2 separate regions of the Homo sapiens genome follow, and region 1 is linked to region 2. A link means that fine-mapping ties the variant in region 2 to the expression of a gene that starts in the linked region. Tissue or cell type: nucleus accumbens. Region 2 holds a variant in brackets; the other region holds the start of a gene. All regions are shown on one strand. Distances are between the middles of the regions.

Region 1 (8,000 bases), 210 kb before region 2:
AAAGGAGAAGAGGTGGGTACTGGAATGAAAGGGTGGATCTTCAGCCAAGCCCCAGGAGACAGAAGGCTGAAGTTGCAGGGGTGTATCGGGCATCTAGGGCCTCACACTCACCTCTGTCTTCTTAAATCGCGCCCTGAGAGTCTTCATAGTTGGTGCCCTGTGTTTCTCCTCTCCACAGGCCACCTGAGGAGGGCAAGGGTGGGGGTAAGGTGAGGGACACCAGTCCTGGTGGGCGGCAGGGTCCGTTGCCTCGCCCTCCTCAAAAGGACCGCTTCCTCCTTCCTGACCAGTCCTGGCCCCTAGAGCAAGACACAGACCTGCTCTATCTCCTACCTGCTGTGTGTCCTTTGGCAGTTTACTTGCCCTCTCTGTTTTACTTCCCTCATCTATACAGTGACAGAAATGATCCTTTCTTGACCAACTCATGGTCAGTTTTCAGCATGGTCCCTACACAGAGCCTGGCCAAACATGAGGGGCTTCATAAATGCATCTCACTGGTATTTCCTGCGGTCCAAACAGATCAAGCCTTTTCTGGTCTCCTAACTTTTACCTGTGCAGTTATTTCTGCCTAGAATGGTTTCTTTTTTCTTCTCTGAACTCCTACTCATCCTTCAAAGCCCAGTTCCAAAATCCCTTGCTCTTATCAGCTTTGCCTCTTGTTCCCAAGCAGAGATCTAACTCCCCAAATTGGGTTCCCGCCTACCCTGGCTGGGTCTCTGCCTCTGCCTCACCCCTGGCTCCATGGGCTGGAAGGGTCTGGGCTGATTCTGTCCTTTTCAACAGTCAGGGGCTCCCTGGGGACTGAAGCCAGGGCTGACGGCTCTCAGCACAGAGGCATGTTTGCTACATAGTCAGAGGGAACCTCCATGTGACAGCAATTCACCCATAGTGGGTGGAGGTCTGGGGCAATGGCTGCATGCATGTGTGTGACGTTGAGTGTGGGGCGTGTGCACACGTGCACTTCTGTCCACCTGGGCCTGTTCTACGTTCCGCATGGGCAGGCACGGAGGTCAGGCAGGCCTATCTTGAGGGGGTGTGTTTTTTGAGGGGTGTGACTGTGAGGCCCTATGTGTGAAAGGGATTTCTGTGATGGAGAATCTGTATTTGCCTCTTACCAAGGAGTAGGGGTTGGCATGGCCTCTACCTGTCCACCTATCTACTCGTGAATTCTCCAAGCCACCCTTCCACGCATTTACCACCTATGCACTCACCTGGACATCCATCCTCCCACCTAAGCACTGTATAACCACCCACTGGCCACCACCCACAAACCCACCCACCCAATTCATGTTCTCATGGTTCTTCATCACCCTTTAATCAGATTTCACCCACACATCCATCCACCCACCCAAACACCTACCAACTCCCACCATTCATCCATCCACTCATCCACCCATCCATCCACTTATCCATCCCTTCATCCATCCACCCAACCACCCATCCATCCATCTGCCCAAGCATCCATCCATCCACCCATCTGCCCACCCAATCACACACCCATCCACCCATCCACCCACCCACCCATCCACTCATCCATCCACTTATCCATCCCTCCATCCACCCACCCAACCACCAATCCATCCATCCACCCACCCACCCACCAGTGCATCCATCCACCCACCCACCAGTCCATCCATGGATCCTTCCATCCATCCATCCATCCACTTATCCATCCCTCCATCCATTTGCCCAATCACCCACCCATTCATCCATCCACCCATCCATCCATACATCTACCCATTCACCCATCTACCAAACCACCAATCCACCTATTCGCCCCCCATCCATCCACCCACCCATCCATTCATCTACCCCTCCACCGGTGCCCATTCACTCACTACCTACCCTTTTTTCTTCTACCTCTGACTGGAGGATTCAATCACACCCAAAGCAGGGGGTAATAAGACACCCAACAGAGGAGTTCACAGGCTGCTTGGGAGAAGACAATCCGTGGGCTTGGGGGAGGGAGAAACGCCTGCTAAATTTAGGAAGCTGCTTGCTGGAAGAGGTGATGGTAAATAAGAAGGGCCTGATGGCCGGGTGGGATGTTGAGCACCTGCCTTGGAGGAAGCTAGGCAGGGCACAGGCCGGCAAGTGGGAAGTGCGTGGGTGAACGAGTGCATGTGTGTGTCAGGGTACCTGGGTAGCTCCGCAGCCTGGCTAGGACTCAGCACGGCTTCTTTCTCCCACATACAAGGGCTCAGGGGCCTGGGGCCATAAGGGGATCCTCCGTCCTGGGCCTCTCCCACCTCCTTCCTCCCCTACCTCCTGCAGCTCCAGTGCCCCGAGCTCCCGGCCACAGTGCCCACTGCCGGCTCCGGTTACCCACTCCCAGCTGGGCCACGAGCAGCTCCAGCCGCTCCACTCTGACACCTGATCGGCTCTGAGCAGGCGGCCGCCCCAGGGGGCCGGGGATGAGCCGAGGGAGGAGACAGGCTGGCAGCGGACTGCCTGTTGGCCAACTGGCTCTGGCGGGAAGACACCCACGATCTTCCCTATCATCACTGGACTGATTTCAGTTTCTGGAAGGAGCCATGCTCTTCCTCTTTCTCAGCCTTTGCACTTGCTGTTCCCCCCACCAGGAACATTCTTTCTGTACTTCATGTCACCCCAACCGGCTCTACCTGACTCATGCACTCTTTATTTATTTATTTATTTATTTTTGAGACGGAGTTTCATGCTTGTTGCCCAGGCTGGAGTGCAATGGCGCGATCTCCGGCTCACCGCAATCTCCGCCTCCTGGGTTCAAGCAATTCTCCTGCCTCAGCCTCCCGAGCAGCTGCGATTACAGGCCACCACACCCAGCTAATTTTGTATTTTTAGTAGAGACGGGGTTTCTCCATGTTGGTCAGGGTGGTCTCGAACTCCCAATCTCAGGTGATCCACCTGCCTTGGCCTCCCAAAGTGCTGGGATTACAGGTGTGAGCCACTGCGCCCGGCTCACTCACTTTTTAGATCTTTGCTGCAACATCCCCTCCTCCAGGAAGCCCTCCCGGATGCCCCCAGCCTGGGTCAGGTGCCTCCTGTGAGCCCCCTCACTGCCCTGTGCCCTCTGCATCACCCATTGCACCCCAACCACACCATGTCACCATTACCTGGTCACATGTTTGTGTCCACCCGCAGCCACCAGGGCATAGATGGTACCACCTTTGCTCTCCAGTGTGCCCAGTACAAAGTAGGTACTCAACACATGATTCTTAAATGAGTCCTCCAGGCCACCAGCCCCATTGACCTTGAGCAGGACCTGTCCTGCAGAATGCAGAACCTCCAGTTGGATGATACTCAGATAACTTGGCCGGACGCAGTGGCTCACGCCTGTAATCCCAGCACTTTGGGAGGCCGAGGCGGTCAGATCACCTGAGGTCAGGAGTTCGGGACCAGCCTGACCAACATGGAGAAACCCCGTCTCTACTAAAAAATACAAAAATTTGCTGGGTGTGGTGGCGGGCGCCTGTAATCCCAGCTACTAGGGAGGCTGAGGCAGGAGAATCGCTTGAACCCAAGAGGCGGAGGTTGCAGTGAACCGAGATTGCGCCACTGCACTCCAGCCTGGGCAACAGAGCGAGGCTCCGTCACACACACACACACACACACACACACACACACAAATGAGATATTCAGGTAACTCTGCGTGGCATTCAAAACCCTTAGGCTGGGGTCCCTGCTGTCCGGCTCTGTCCTTACGGAATTTACTAATCCGTAAAAGGGGTTGTGGGGACATGGATAGCCTGTGTCCCGCATTTTAGAGGTGACTGGAGAACTCTCACGTAGGCGGCCGCCCCAATTTCCCGCCCGGGTCATCGGGGAGCCCCTTCCCAAGCCCCGCAAACACCTGCATGCAAAGAGGCAGGCTTCCTTCTGACAGCAGATAACATGTCGCCTGCGGCGTCAGCAAGAGGCGCATGCGCCTTGCCGTGGGAGGCCGGGTGCGCAGGACTGGAACGCGGTTCCTCCTTCTTCCCCGCCCCGCCCCGCTTCCGGCGGAAGCGGCCTCAACAAGGGAAACTTTATTGTTCCCGTGGGGCAGTCGAGGATGTCGGTGAATTACGCGGCGGGGCTGTCGCCGTACGCGGACAAGGGCAAGTGCGGCCTCCCGGAGGTGAGCGCGTCTGAGGGTCCCGAGCATCGCGCCCCAGGGCCGCGGGCTGGGAGCGGCCGGATGGCAGGGGGGCATTGTGGGAATATCAGGGGGCACTGAGGCTAGACAATGGGAGGGACTTCCCAGTGAGGAAGGGGCGGGAAGTGACGCCCCTGCGCGCCGGGGGACGCCAACACGCCCAACTCTGTGGTCACCCTGTCGGGGCTGATCGGGGAGAGAGGGGATGTAGTTCCAGGAAGAGGGGACGACAGGCGCAAAGGGAGGTGGGAATAAACACACCTGGAGAACGATTAGGCCTGGGAGGTTTCCAGAGCCGGGCCAGGACGGGGCTCAAATGCCAGGCTGGGGAGTTGGCACTTTATCCTGAGGGTGATGGGGAAGGGTTTTGCCCTGGCGAGGGGACTGGACAGAATGTGCCAGAAAGATCCCTCCAGCCACTCAGAGGGGAAGTGGAGGGATCGGCTGCCCCCTCCACGCACTGTGGGACTTTGGGGAAGTCACTTCCCTTTTGGGTCTCCATCTCCAAACTTTCTGCAAACGAGGTGAAGATGGCCCCATTCCATAAGGCTGGCCCATGCATTCTGACTCATGCATTTAATGAGCGCTGATGGTGTGCGCCCGTCCAGAAGCCCCACTCTTCACTGCTGCTGTTAGTCACTTTATTATTATTATTATTATATTTTTGAGATGGAGTTTCTCTGTCGCCCAGGCTGGAGTGCAGTGGCGCGATCTCGGCTCACTGCAACCTCCGCCTCCTAGGTTCAAGCGATTCTCCTGCCTCAGCCTCCTGAGTAGAGTAGATGAGACTACAGGCACCTGCCACCACGCCTGGCTAATTTTTGTATTTTTAGTAGAGGCGGGGTTTCACCATGTTGGCCAGTCTGCTCTTGAACTCTTGATCTCAAGTGATCCACCCACCTTGGCTTCCCAAAGTGCTGGGATTATAGGCGTGAGCCACCATACCCGGCCTGTTAGTCACTTTATTCCACCAACATTTATAGAGCACTTACTGTAGCTCAGGCACTTTCTAGGTACTAAGGCCACAGCCAGGAGCAACACAGATTAAAAACCCCTCCTTCTAGTAAGGGAGACTGACTAGGGGTTGCATGGAAACCAGTTGGCCAAGGGAGGCATCACTGTCACTGAAGTGACATCTAAGCCACAAGTTACAGGAGGTGAGGGAGGGAGCCATGTGGGTATCTGGGGGAAGAGCATTAAAGGGTGTGGCCCTGAGGCGGGACTGTGCCTGGTGTGATAGAGGAACAAGGAGGAGACCTGTGTGGCTGGAGCAGAGTGAGGCAGGGAGAGGGAGGAGAAGAGGGCAGGGAGGGGGCAAGGGAGGTAGTGCAGGGCCTGGTGGGCCGTGGGAAGGGCTAGGGCTTTGACAAGGCAGGTGGGAGGCATGGAAGGTTGTAGGAAGAGGAGGGGCATGAGGACAAGCTGCCTTTTCCAATCCATTTTCCTCCCTCAGGCAAGACAGGGACAGCTCAGTCTGTGGCTCGTGCGTGGCCTTGCCACTTGGGGGAACTGTTTTGACCCCTCCGTCTGCTCTCTCCCCCCACAGATCTTCGACCCCCCGGAGGAGCTGGAGCGGAAGGTGTGGGAACTGGCGAGGCTGGTCTGGCAGTCTTCCAGTGTGGTGTTCCACACGGGTGCCGGCATCAGCACTGCCTCTGGCATCCCCGACTTCAGGTCTGTGATTGTGCAGGGGAAGTCGAGGCAAGGCCTACCAGGCTGCCAGAGGCTTCCCTGCGAGCCACACACATCTGGGAATGAGAACACATCCATCTGCTTTCCTCCTGGATGTGTCCTGGGTACTCCCTTTAAGATGTGTCCCTTGGCTGGGCATGGTGGATCACAAGGTCAAGAATTCCAGACCAGCCTGGCCAATATGGTGAATCCCTGTCTCTACTAAAAATACAAAAATTAGCCAGTTGTGGTGGCACACATCTGTAGTCCCAGCTACTCGGGAGGCTGAGGCAGGAGAATTGCTTGAACCTGGGAGGTGGAGGCAGTGAGCCGAGATTGCACCACTGCACTCCAGCCTGGGCGACAGAGTGAGGCTCCGTCTAAAAACAAAACAAAAAGATGTGTCCCTTGTCACAACCAGCATTCCACTCACCTCATTGGCCAGAACACGGTCACCTGATCACACCTGGCTGCAAGGGTTGCTGGGAAATGTAGTCTTTCATATTTGCAAGCGTAGCCAGGTGTGGTGGCAGGCACCTGTAATCGCAGCTACTTGGAAGGCCGAGGTGGGAGAATCGCTTGAACCCGGGAGGCAGAGGTTGCAGTCAGCCAGGATCATGCCATTGTACTCCAGCCTGGGCAACAGAGCCAGACTCCATCTCAAAAAAAAAAAAAAAAAAAAAAAAAAAAAGCCAAGGCGTGAATTTCTCCTCCTTCTCCTCTTCCATAACCTGCTGTGGCTCCCCATTGCCAGGCAGTGTAGAGTTCTGAATACCTTGTGCTGGAAGCTGAAGCCCTTCCTGCCCCAGCCCTGAATCACCTCTCCAACTTCAGCCCCTCCTGCTCCTGCTGCAGCCCCCAAAACACTTGCATTTTCTCCTAAACTCATGGGCTCTTCCCAGCACCCAGGCCTTTGTTTACCCCTTCTGTCTGATCTTCCCTCTCACCCTTCAAGAAACTGCTTAGCCTCCTCCAGGAAGCCCTTCCACGTGCCCCAGGGCCCCCACCTCCACGGGGCTTCCCCAGGCCCAGGTACCTCCTCTGATCCAGGCTTGACTCTTGGGGCCAGAGGATCTGTGTCCACCTGTCTCCCCCAAGATCAAGGGCTTCTGGAGGGCAGGGCTTGGGCCCATGTGAGCATCGTCGGGCTCATTGCAGCAGCAGTGTTGGTTGAATAGAATAAGTCATTTTTGCCTTCGTGTGAATTCATCTCTCTCTCTCTGCCTCTCCCTCTCTCTGTCTCTCTCCAATTCTGTCTCTGACTTGCTTTGTCTTTAACTCTTTATCTCTCTGTCTGTGTCTTGTTCTATCCCCCTCTCCCTGTTCTTGCAACTCACCCTCTATTTCTGTTTCTGATTCCCTCTCTCTGTCTCCCTGTCTCTCTCTGTCTCCTGATTTTCTCTCTCTCCAACTTTCTCTCTATACCTCTCTGATTCTCCCTCTGTCTCTTTTTCTGTTCCCCTCTCCCCGTCCATCTCTCCCGGCCTGCCACCTTCAGGGGTCCCCACGGAGTCTGGACCATGGAGGAGCGAGGTCTGGCCCCCAAGTTCGACACCACCTTTGAGAGCGCGCGGCCCACGCAGACCCACATGGCGCTGGTGCAGCTGGAGCGCGTGGGCCTCCTCCGCTTCCTGGTCAGCCAGAACGTGGACGGGCTCCATGTGCGCTCAGGCTTCCCCAGGTAACACCCTGGCCCCGCCCCCACAAAAGAGCTTGGGGCCCCACAAACCGTGTTTGCATTTTTAGGGGGAGAGTCCCCTTTTCCTGGTTCTATAAGATTCTAGCCCTGAGTTCTTGGCCCAGTGTGTGGAGATCTCTGAGTCCCATGGCTCAGAGCTGTCCCGGCTGAGGCCAGAGGCAGAATTTCCCTCGAGATGGGGCTAAGGGGAGGAGAGCTGTCAGGGTCTAGAAGTTGCAGTTTGTTTTTTGTTGTTGTTGTTGTTTTTGAGACCGAGTTTCGTTCTTGTTGCCCAGGCTGGAGTGCAATGGCGTGATCTCCGCTCAGCCTCCCAGGTTCAAGCGATTCTCCTGCCTCAGCCTCCCTAGTAACTGGGATTACAGGCATGCGCCATCACACCCAGCTAATTTTGTATTTTTAGTAGAGACGGGGTTTCTCCATGTTGGCCAGGCTGGTCTTGAACTCCTGACCTCAGGTGATCTGCCCGCCTCAGCCTCCCAAAGTGCTGGGGTTACAGGTGTGAGCCACCACGCT
Region 2 (8,256 bases):
AGTACCTCAACGAGATCAAGGACAGTGTGGTGGCCGGCTTCCAGTGGGCCACCAAGGAGGTGAGGCACGGCTCAGCATGTGCAGACCACACCCGTTTCCAGGCTCTAGAGGGACCTCATGGTCCTGCCTCCCGAGACAGAGACCCTAATGGGGCCAAGGCGGGCAAGGCCCCAGGTCCCCCTGGTGGAGACCTGCAGGACTTGGCAGGTGGAGGGCAAGCAGCCGAGGTGTGTCCGGCCCTTGACGGTGGCTCTCCCCCTCCCCCAGGGCGCACTGTGTGAGGAGAACATGCGGGGTGTGCGCTTCGACGTCCACGACGTCACCCTGCACGCCGACGCCATCCACCGCGGAGGGGGCCAGATCATCCCCACAGCACGGCGCTGCCTCTATGCCAGTGTGCTGACCGCCCAGCCACGCCTCATGGAGCCCATCTACCTTGTGGAGATCCAGGTGAGGTCTACCCGCCCACCGCTGACCCTGCCACCGTCCTGCCCAGCGGCCACTGACAGGTTTTCTTTCCCTTCTGGCAGTGTCCAGAGCAGGTGGTCGGTGGCATCTACGGGGTTTTGAACAGGAAGCGGGGCCACGTGTTCGAGGAGTCCCAGGTGGCCGGCACCCCCATGTTTGTGGTCAAGGCCTATCTGCCCGTCAACGAGTCCTTTGGTGAGTGCCTGCCCGGTGTGGCCTGCAGAGCCTGGCAGGCTGGTTTGGGGGACAGAAGCCCAGTTAAGCTTAGCAAGGTGTTAAAGGAGGCGTCCTGATGGGAGCAGGTGATGGATGGAGCAGGTGGTCCAGTTTCTGACAGCTTGTGGACCCCCTAAATCACTGAATTCCCAGGGGAGGGGCTCTCCTATCCCCAGTGTGAGAAGGGCTCTGGGCCTGGAGCTCTGAAGGCCTACGCCCTGGGCCGGTAGAGCAGCCGAGCTGTAGCACAGGGTTGTCCCAAACGAGCAGCGGCATGAGGCCCATGAGTGGCCTGCTAGGCCCTTCGTGAAGTGCTGGGCACCAGGCCGAGTGTCTGGTCTGCAGGGTGACTCAGGCTGAGGAACTAGCCTGAGCTCCTGACAGGACTTTCCTTCTGCCCTGCCACCTTCTCGATGGCCCAGTGAGCCTCTCGCTTCCCTCTGCAGGCTTCACCGCTGACCTGAGGTCCAACACGGGCGGCCAGGCGTTCCCCCAGTGTGTGTTTGACCACTGGCAGATCCTGCCCGGAGACCCCTTCGACAACAGCAGCCGCCCCAGCCAGGTGGTGGCGGAGACCCGCAAGCGCAAGGGCCTGAAAGAAGGCATCCCTGCCCTGGACAACTTCCTGGACAAATTGTAGGCGGCCCTTCCTGCAGCGCCTGCCGCCCCGGGGACTCGCAGCACCCACAGCACCACGTCCTCGAATTCTCAGACGACACCTGGAGACTGTCCCGACACAGCGACGCTCCCCTGAGAGGTTTCTGGGGCCCGCTGCGTGCCATCACTCAACCATAACACTTGATGCCGTTTCTTTCAATATTTATTTCCAGAGTCCGGAGGCAGCAGACACGCCCTCTTAGTAGGGACTTAATGGGCCGGTCGGGGAGGGGGAGGCGGGATGGGACACCCAACACTTTTTCCATTTCTTCAGAGGGAAACTCAGATGTCCAAACTAATTTTAACAAACGCATTAAGAGGTTTATTTGGGTACATGGCCCGCAGTGGCTTTTGCCCCAGAAAGGGGAAAGGAACACGCGGGTAGATGATTTCTAGCAGGCAGGAAGTCCTGTGCGGTGTCACCATGAGCACCTCCAGCTGTACTAGTGCCATTGGAATAATAAATTTGATAAGGTGGTGACTCTGTTCTGCATTTTTCACGGTGTCTTCGCAGGGGAGCGGGGCTGCCCAGTACTGGGCTCCCTGGAGCCTAGAAGGGGACCCGGGCCCTAGTTAGGTGCAGCCTGGGGCTGCCTCAGTGTTAGGTGGAACGTTCTGGAATGGTGGGAATGCCCTACCCCTGTGTCATTCAGAGAAGCAGCTGCCAGCTGCGCGGGTCTGCTGAGCATTTGAAGTAGGATCAGTGCGGCAAGGAATTACGAGATGTCACTTTGAACGCATTTGGATGGCCCTGTGGAGCGAGGGGCTCTGGATTGAACTTCGCAGGTTTCAGCAACTTTCCGAATTGCTGACGAGCTCACAAGTTCTATCTGCCATCAGGATTTTCTGTGGTCACCCCAGTCCTGACTAGTTTATTAGAAACCCATTTTTTTTTTTTTTTTTTTTGAGATGGAGTCTCACCGTTTGCTAGGCTGGAGTGGAATGGCACCATCTCTGCTCACTGCAACCTCCACCTCCCGGGTTCAAGCAATTCTGCCTCGGGCTCCTGGGTAGCTGGGATTACATGCGTGTGCTACCACGCCCAGCCAATTTTTATATTTTTAGTAGAGATGAGGTTTCACCATGTTGGCCTGGATGATCTTGATCACTCGACCTTGTGATCCACCCGCCTTGGCCTCCCAAAGCGTTGGGATTGTACCACTGTGCCCGGCCTTGTAAACACTTTTTTAGAGGCAGAGTCTTGCTGTCTCCCAGATGAGTATAGTGGTGCAGTCAGCTCACTGCATCCTCCACCTCCTGGACTCTCCTGCCTCAGCCTGCCAGGTAGCTGGGACTCCAGGCATGTGCCACCATGCCCAGCTAATTTTTATTTATTTTGAGACAGAATTTTGCTTGGCCTGGTTGGTCTCGAACTCCTGACCTCAAGTGATCTGCCCGCCTCGGCCTCCCAAAGTGCTGGGAATTATAGGCGTGAGCCACTGTGCTGACCTAATTTTTACTTTTTTTGTAGTAATGGGGTCTCACTATGTTGCTCAGGCTGGTCTCCTTCCCGGGCTCAAGCGATCCTTCTGCCTCAGCCTCCCAAAGTGCTGGGATTTCAGGTGTGAGCGCCAATAGCTTAGAAAACTATTTGTTTTTCTAAATAGTGCCTAAGATGTGAGGAGGCCTAATCTTGTCAGTGCTGATAAGGTTAACATGATCATTTTCCGCCTTTTACTCTGTCCTCAGGAAGGCAGGTGGGGACTGTGAAGTAGGGCTGTGGGGTTCTCGGCAAAGGCGGGGGCAGCTCTGGCCCTGCATTGTCAAGGCCAAGCCTCAGCTGAGGTTTTGCCCACATGTAGGTATGCCTGAGGTTTGGTTTGGCTGTCGCATTTGAATTGGGGCTGTAACTGACGCTGTTTCCAGCAGTCAGGGTAACGGATTACTGTGTTTCGAGAATCTCACTCTATCGCCCAGGATGGAGTGCAGTGTTGTGATCTTGGCTCACTATAGCCTCTGCCTCCGGATTCAAGTGCTCAAGCAATTCTTGTGCTTCAGCCTCCCGAGTAGCTGGAATTACAGGCGCCTATCACCAGGTCTGTGTAATTTTTGTATATTTAGGTGAGATGGGGTTTCACCATGTTGGCCAGGCTGGTCTCAAGCTCGACCGTAAGAGATCAGCCCGCCTCAGCCTCCCAAAGTGCTGGGGTTACAGGTGTGAGCCACCATACCGGGTCCTATTCTTTTTTAGTAGTGCAAACGTTAAGATGGTATGTGGAAGCTGAATTTTTTTTTTTTTTTGAGACAGTCTTTGCTCTGTCACCCAGGCTGGAGTGCAGTGGCTCAATCTTGGCTCACTGCAAGCTCCGCCTCCCGGGTTCACGCCATTCTCCTGCCTCAGCCTCCCGAGTAGCCGGGACTACAGGCGCCCGCCACCATGCCCGGCTAATTTTTTGTATTTATTAGTAGAGACAGGGTTTCACCGTGTTAGCCAGGATAGTCTCGATCTCCTGACCTCGTGATCCACCCGCCTCGGCCTCCCAAAGTGCTGGGAATTATAGGCGTGAGCCACTGTGCTGACCTAATTTTTACTTTTTTTGTAGTAATGGGGTCTCACTATGTTGCTCAGGCTGGTCTCCTTCCCGGGCTCAAGCGATCCTTCTGCCTCAGCCTCCCAAAGTGCTGGGATTTCAGGTGTGAGCGCCAATAGCTTAGAAAACTATTTGTTTTTCTAAATAGTGCCTAAGATGTGAGGAGGCCTAATCTTGTCAGTGCTGATAAGGTTAACATGATCATTTTCCGCCTTTTACTCTGTCCTCAGGAAGGCAGGTGGGGACTGTGAAGTAGGGCTGTGGGGTTCTCGGCAAAGGCGGGGGCAGCTCTGGCCCTGCATTGTCAAGGCCAAGCCTCAGCTGAGGTTTTGCCCACATGTAGGTATGCCTGAGGTTTGGTTTGGCTGTCGCATTTGAATTGGGGCTGTAACTGACGCTGTTTCCAGCAGTCAGGGTAACGGATTACTGTGTTTCGAGAATCTCACTCTATCGCCCAGGATGGAGTGCAGTGTTGTGATCTTGGCTCACTATAGCCTCTGCCTCCGGATTCAAGTGCTCAAGCAATTCTTGTGCTTCAGCCTCCCGAGTAGCTGGAATTACAGGCGCCTATCACCAGGTCTGTGTAATTTTTGTATATTTAGGTGAGATGGGGTTTCACCATGTTGGCCAGGCTGGTCTCAAGCTCGACCGTAAGAGATCAGCCCGCCTCAGCCTCCCAAAGTGCTGGGGTTACAGGTGTGAGCCACCATACCGGGTCCTATTCTTTTTTAGTAGTGCAAACGTTAAGATGGTATGTGGAAGCTGAATTTTTTTTTTTTTTTGAGACAGTCTTTGCTCTGTCACCCAGGCTGGAGTGCAGTGGCTCAATCTTGGCTCACTGCAAGCTCCGCCTCCCGGGTTCACGCCATTCTCCTGCCTCAGCCTCCCGAGTAGCCGGGACTACAGGCACCCGCCACCATGCCCGGCTAATTTTTTGTATTTATTAGTAGAGACAGGGTTTCACC[G/A]TGTTAGCCAGGATGGTCTTGATGTCCTGACTTCGTGATCTGCCCACCGTGGCCTCCCAAAATGCTGGAATTACAGGCGTTAGCCACCATGCCCTGCCACTTTTTTTTCTTTGAGATGGAGTCTCCCTCCGTCACCCAGGCTGTAGTATAGTGGCATGATCTCGGCTCGCTGCAACCTCCACCTCCTGGGTTCAAGCAATTCTCCTGCGCTAGCCTCCCGAGTAGCTGGGATTACAGGCATGTGCCACCAGGCCTGGCTAACTTTTGTATTTTTAGTAGAGACAGGGTTTCACCATGTTGAGCAGGCTGGTCTTGAACTCCTACTTCAAGTGACCTGCCCGCCTTGGCTGCCCAAGCTGTTGGGATTACGGGCGTGAGCCACCACACCTGGCCAACCCATTGTACGTTGAAAATGTAAATAAAAAATATAAAGGCCGGCTTGTGGCTCACGTCTGTAATCGCAGCACTTTGAGAGGCCGAGGCCGGCGGATCACAGATATTGAGACCATCCTGGCCAACATGGTGAAACCCTGCGTCTACTAAAAATACAAAAATCAGCTGGGAGTGGTGGCGTGCACCTGTAGTCCCAGCTACTCGGGAGGCTGAGGCAGGAGAATCGCTTGAACCCAGGAGGCAGAGATTGCAGTGAGCCCAGATCTCACCACTGCGTTCCAGCCTGGACGATAGAAGGAGACTGTCTCAAAAAAAAAAAAAAAAAAAAAAAAAGGCTGGGCAAGGTGGCTCATGCCTGTAATTCCTGCACTTTGGGAGGCCGAGGCGGGCGGATCAGGAGGTCAGGAGATCGAGACCATCCTGGCTAACACGGTGAAACCCTGTCTCTACTAATAAATACAAAAAATTAGCTGGGCGTGGTGACGGGCGCCTGTAGTCCCAGCTATTCGGGAGGCTGAGGCAGGAGAATGGCGTGAACCTGGGAGGTGGAGCTTGCAGTGAGCCGAGATTGTGCCAGTGTACTCCAGCCTGGGTGACAGAGCGAGACTCCGTCTCAAAATAATAATAAAAAATGAATTTAGGCCGGGCGCAATGGCTCACGCCTGTAATCTCAGCACTTTGGAAAGCTGAGGTGCCGGATCACCTGAGCTTAGGAGTTCGAGACCAGCCTGGGCAACATGGTGAAACCCCGTCTCTACTAAAAATACAAAAATTAGCCGGGCGTGGTGATGGGCACCTGTAATCCCAGCTACTTGGGAGGCTGAGGCACGAGAATCGTTTGAACCCGGGAGGTGGAGGTTGCAGTGAGCTGGATACCGCCGCTGCACTCCTGCCTGGGTGACAGAGTGAGACCCTGTCTCAAAAAATAAAATTAAAAAAAAAACAAACCTGATACCTCCCAGTGTTGTCAGTTGGCACATACTATGTCTCAATAAAATGCTTGCTGTTACCCTCTATTTTGAGACGAAGAGGGACCCTGTGTATGACAACCCCAGATTGACCTCATTTGCATTTTAAGTATTTAGAATGTGGGTAACAGTTTTCAGTGGAGGAAACTGCCACATAGGGACTAAAGCAGTCCCAGGGTCCACTCCAGGAGCTGCCAGGCGCGCTCGGCCACAGGTGAGCCATCCATTCGCCCAACCGGTGCTCCAGGAAGGCAGGAAGCGGGATGCAGGGCTTCAGCCTCACTTCTCGCAGCTTCAGCACCTGGGTCAGAGGAGAGGCGGGCGGGGCGATGAAGGGACCGGAAGTCGGCCTTTTTTCCGTCCGCTTGACCAGCGTCGACTGCAGCCAATGAAATCAGGGATGGCGAGTGTTCAGCCAGTGGTGAGGCTGCATCCGGGTGTGGGTGCCGAAAAGGCAGCTGGGGGCGGGACGTCGAGGTGCGGCACGAGCGGCGGGCGCACCGGCCAATAGGCGGCGGGGTTCGTTTCCCGGGGGTGGGCACTGGCGGGTGCGGTGACGTCGGCGCAGGCGCGTCGCGGCGGCAGGGGCGCGGGGCTTCTGGAGGCGGCGGCGGTGGCCAGCGCGGCGGCGCCGGCCGTATTCTCCGGGCTGCGGAGGGTAAAGAGCGGGCTCGGGCCGAGGCTGGAGGGCTGGGTGGGGCCAGAGCGGCGCTTCGGGGGCCCGCGGAGGACGAGGGAGGGAGAGAATCTGAGGAGCTGGTAGGTTTGGGGACCCATCTGGGTGACCGGGCCGGGGAAAGGGCTCGGCCGGGCGTGCGAGGGGCGTAGCGGCCCCAGGGATGCTGGAGCGGAGCCTTAGGGATGGGCAAGGCCTTGGGGGCGGGGGGAGGTTCTGCAAAGGGAGCCACTGGGGTCTGCCTAGGGGCTTGTGCGGAGATTGCGGGCGAGAAGGGGCAGAGGACGGTGGAGGAGACTCAGATGGGGCCCTTTTTGGCGGCCCGTTTTGGGGGGTAGGGGAGACGGCGGTTGGGGGACTTTGATACATGGAGCGTGGAGGAAGAGGTTAATCTTGCGAGGACAGTGGAGGTCAGCGGGGGAGGGAGGCAAAGTGGGCTTTCAGGAGCGTGGAAGGCGTCGTCCGGTTCTTGGAAAATTCAGAATTGGAGGGAGTCAGAGATGGTTGGGGGTGGGCGGGGGTGTTCCATCGATGAGGGTCTTAAGAGACCTGCCGAGGGCAAGGACCAGGAGGGGTTAAGGTAGTAACTTGGGAATTTTGATCGGAATGGCAGCACTTTGGGAGGCCTGGGACGATCGCTTGAGCCTTGGAGTTCCAGGCTGCAGTGAGCCATGATTGCACCACTGCACTCCAGCCAGGGCGACAGAGCGAGACTCCTTCTCAAAAAACAACAACACCAACAACAAAAGAAGTAGACTTGAGAACTTCGTTAAGACATTGGCCAGGGAGTAAGGTAGCCCTGGGATTTGAGGTTGAGGAGAACGTGCAGGAATGGTGGGGGATTTTGGCTGAGCAGGTTGAGAGAAGTCTAGGAGTGAGAGGCAAAAAAAGACGCAGGCAGCGTCGGGGAAATCAGAATTATGTGTCTGGAGAGAGTTTTGCGGGGTGAAGGTGGCCCAGTGGGGCTGTTACCAAACTTTTGAGTGGTTATGGGGCTCTAAGAGGTGACATGACAGGACCCAGCCCAGTAAACACAGCACCTCTTTTTGTCGAGTTTGGAGCTTCAGAGTGGAGAGGTGGGAGGCTTGTGTTTGCTGGACAGGTCTGTCCATTAATCTAGGAGAAAAGGGTGGTGTCTCAGTTCCTCACTTCTGTCTTTCCCTGTCTTCTCCAGGGTTGCCATTAGGGGACTCCTGAGGTCCTATCTCCAGGCTGCGGTGACTGCACTTTCCCTGGAGTGGAAGCTGCTGGAAGGCGGACCGGCCGCCATGTCCACGTTCAGGCAGGAGGACGTGGAGGACCATTATGAGATGGGGGAGGAGCTGGGCAGGTGAGCTGTCTGCCCGCACGGCTGGGCTCCAGGGATAGGAGAGAGGCGCTGT

What was found. PIP is the estimated chance that this variant, and not a neighbour inherited with it, causes the effect.
Region 1: it holds the start of SIRT6, and the variant in region 2 is fine-mapped to the expression of SIRT6 in nucleus accumbens (GTEx, PIP 0.98).

The regions. Positions count from the first base shown.
Region 1 is chr19:4,178,573-4,186,572 of GRCh38, reverse strand. It overlaps SIRT6 (sirtuin 6), which reads left to right and starts at 4,010. Exons shown (of 8, transcript NM_016539.4): 1 at 4,010-4,099; 2 at 5,664-5,791; 3 at 7,287-7,469. The coding sequence starts at 4,034. It overlaps ANKRD24 (ankyrin repeat domain 24), which reads right to left and starts at 3,884. Exons shown (of 22, transcript NM_001393985.1): 1 at 3,833-3,884; 2 at 112-183. The coding sequence starts at 147. RefSeq lists enhancers at 209-328, 3,827-3,876, 3,947-4,036.
Region 2 is chr19:3,969,622-3,977,877 of GRCh38, reverse strand. It overlaps DAPK3 (death associated protein kinase 3), which reads left to right and starts at 6,779. Exons shown (of 9, transcript NM_001348.3): 1 at 6,779-6,957; 2 at 8,049-8,204. The coding sequence starts at 8,143. EEF2 (eukaryotic translation elongation factor 2) reads left to right here. Exons shown (of 15, transcript NM_001961.4): 12 at 1-59; 13 at 268-450; 14 at 531-663; 15 at 1,131-1,822. The coding sequence ends at 1,324. RefSeq lists enhancers at 269-478, 7,096-7,727, 7,728-8,256 and silencers at 6,795-6,924, 7,913-8,207. The variant G/A (reference allele first, on the strand shown) is at 4,838.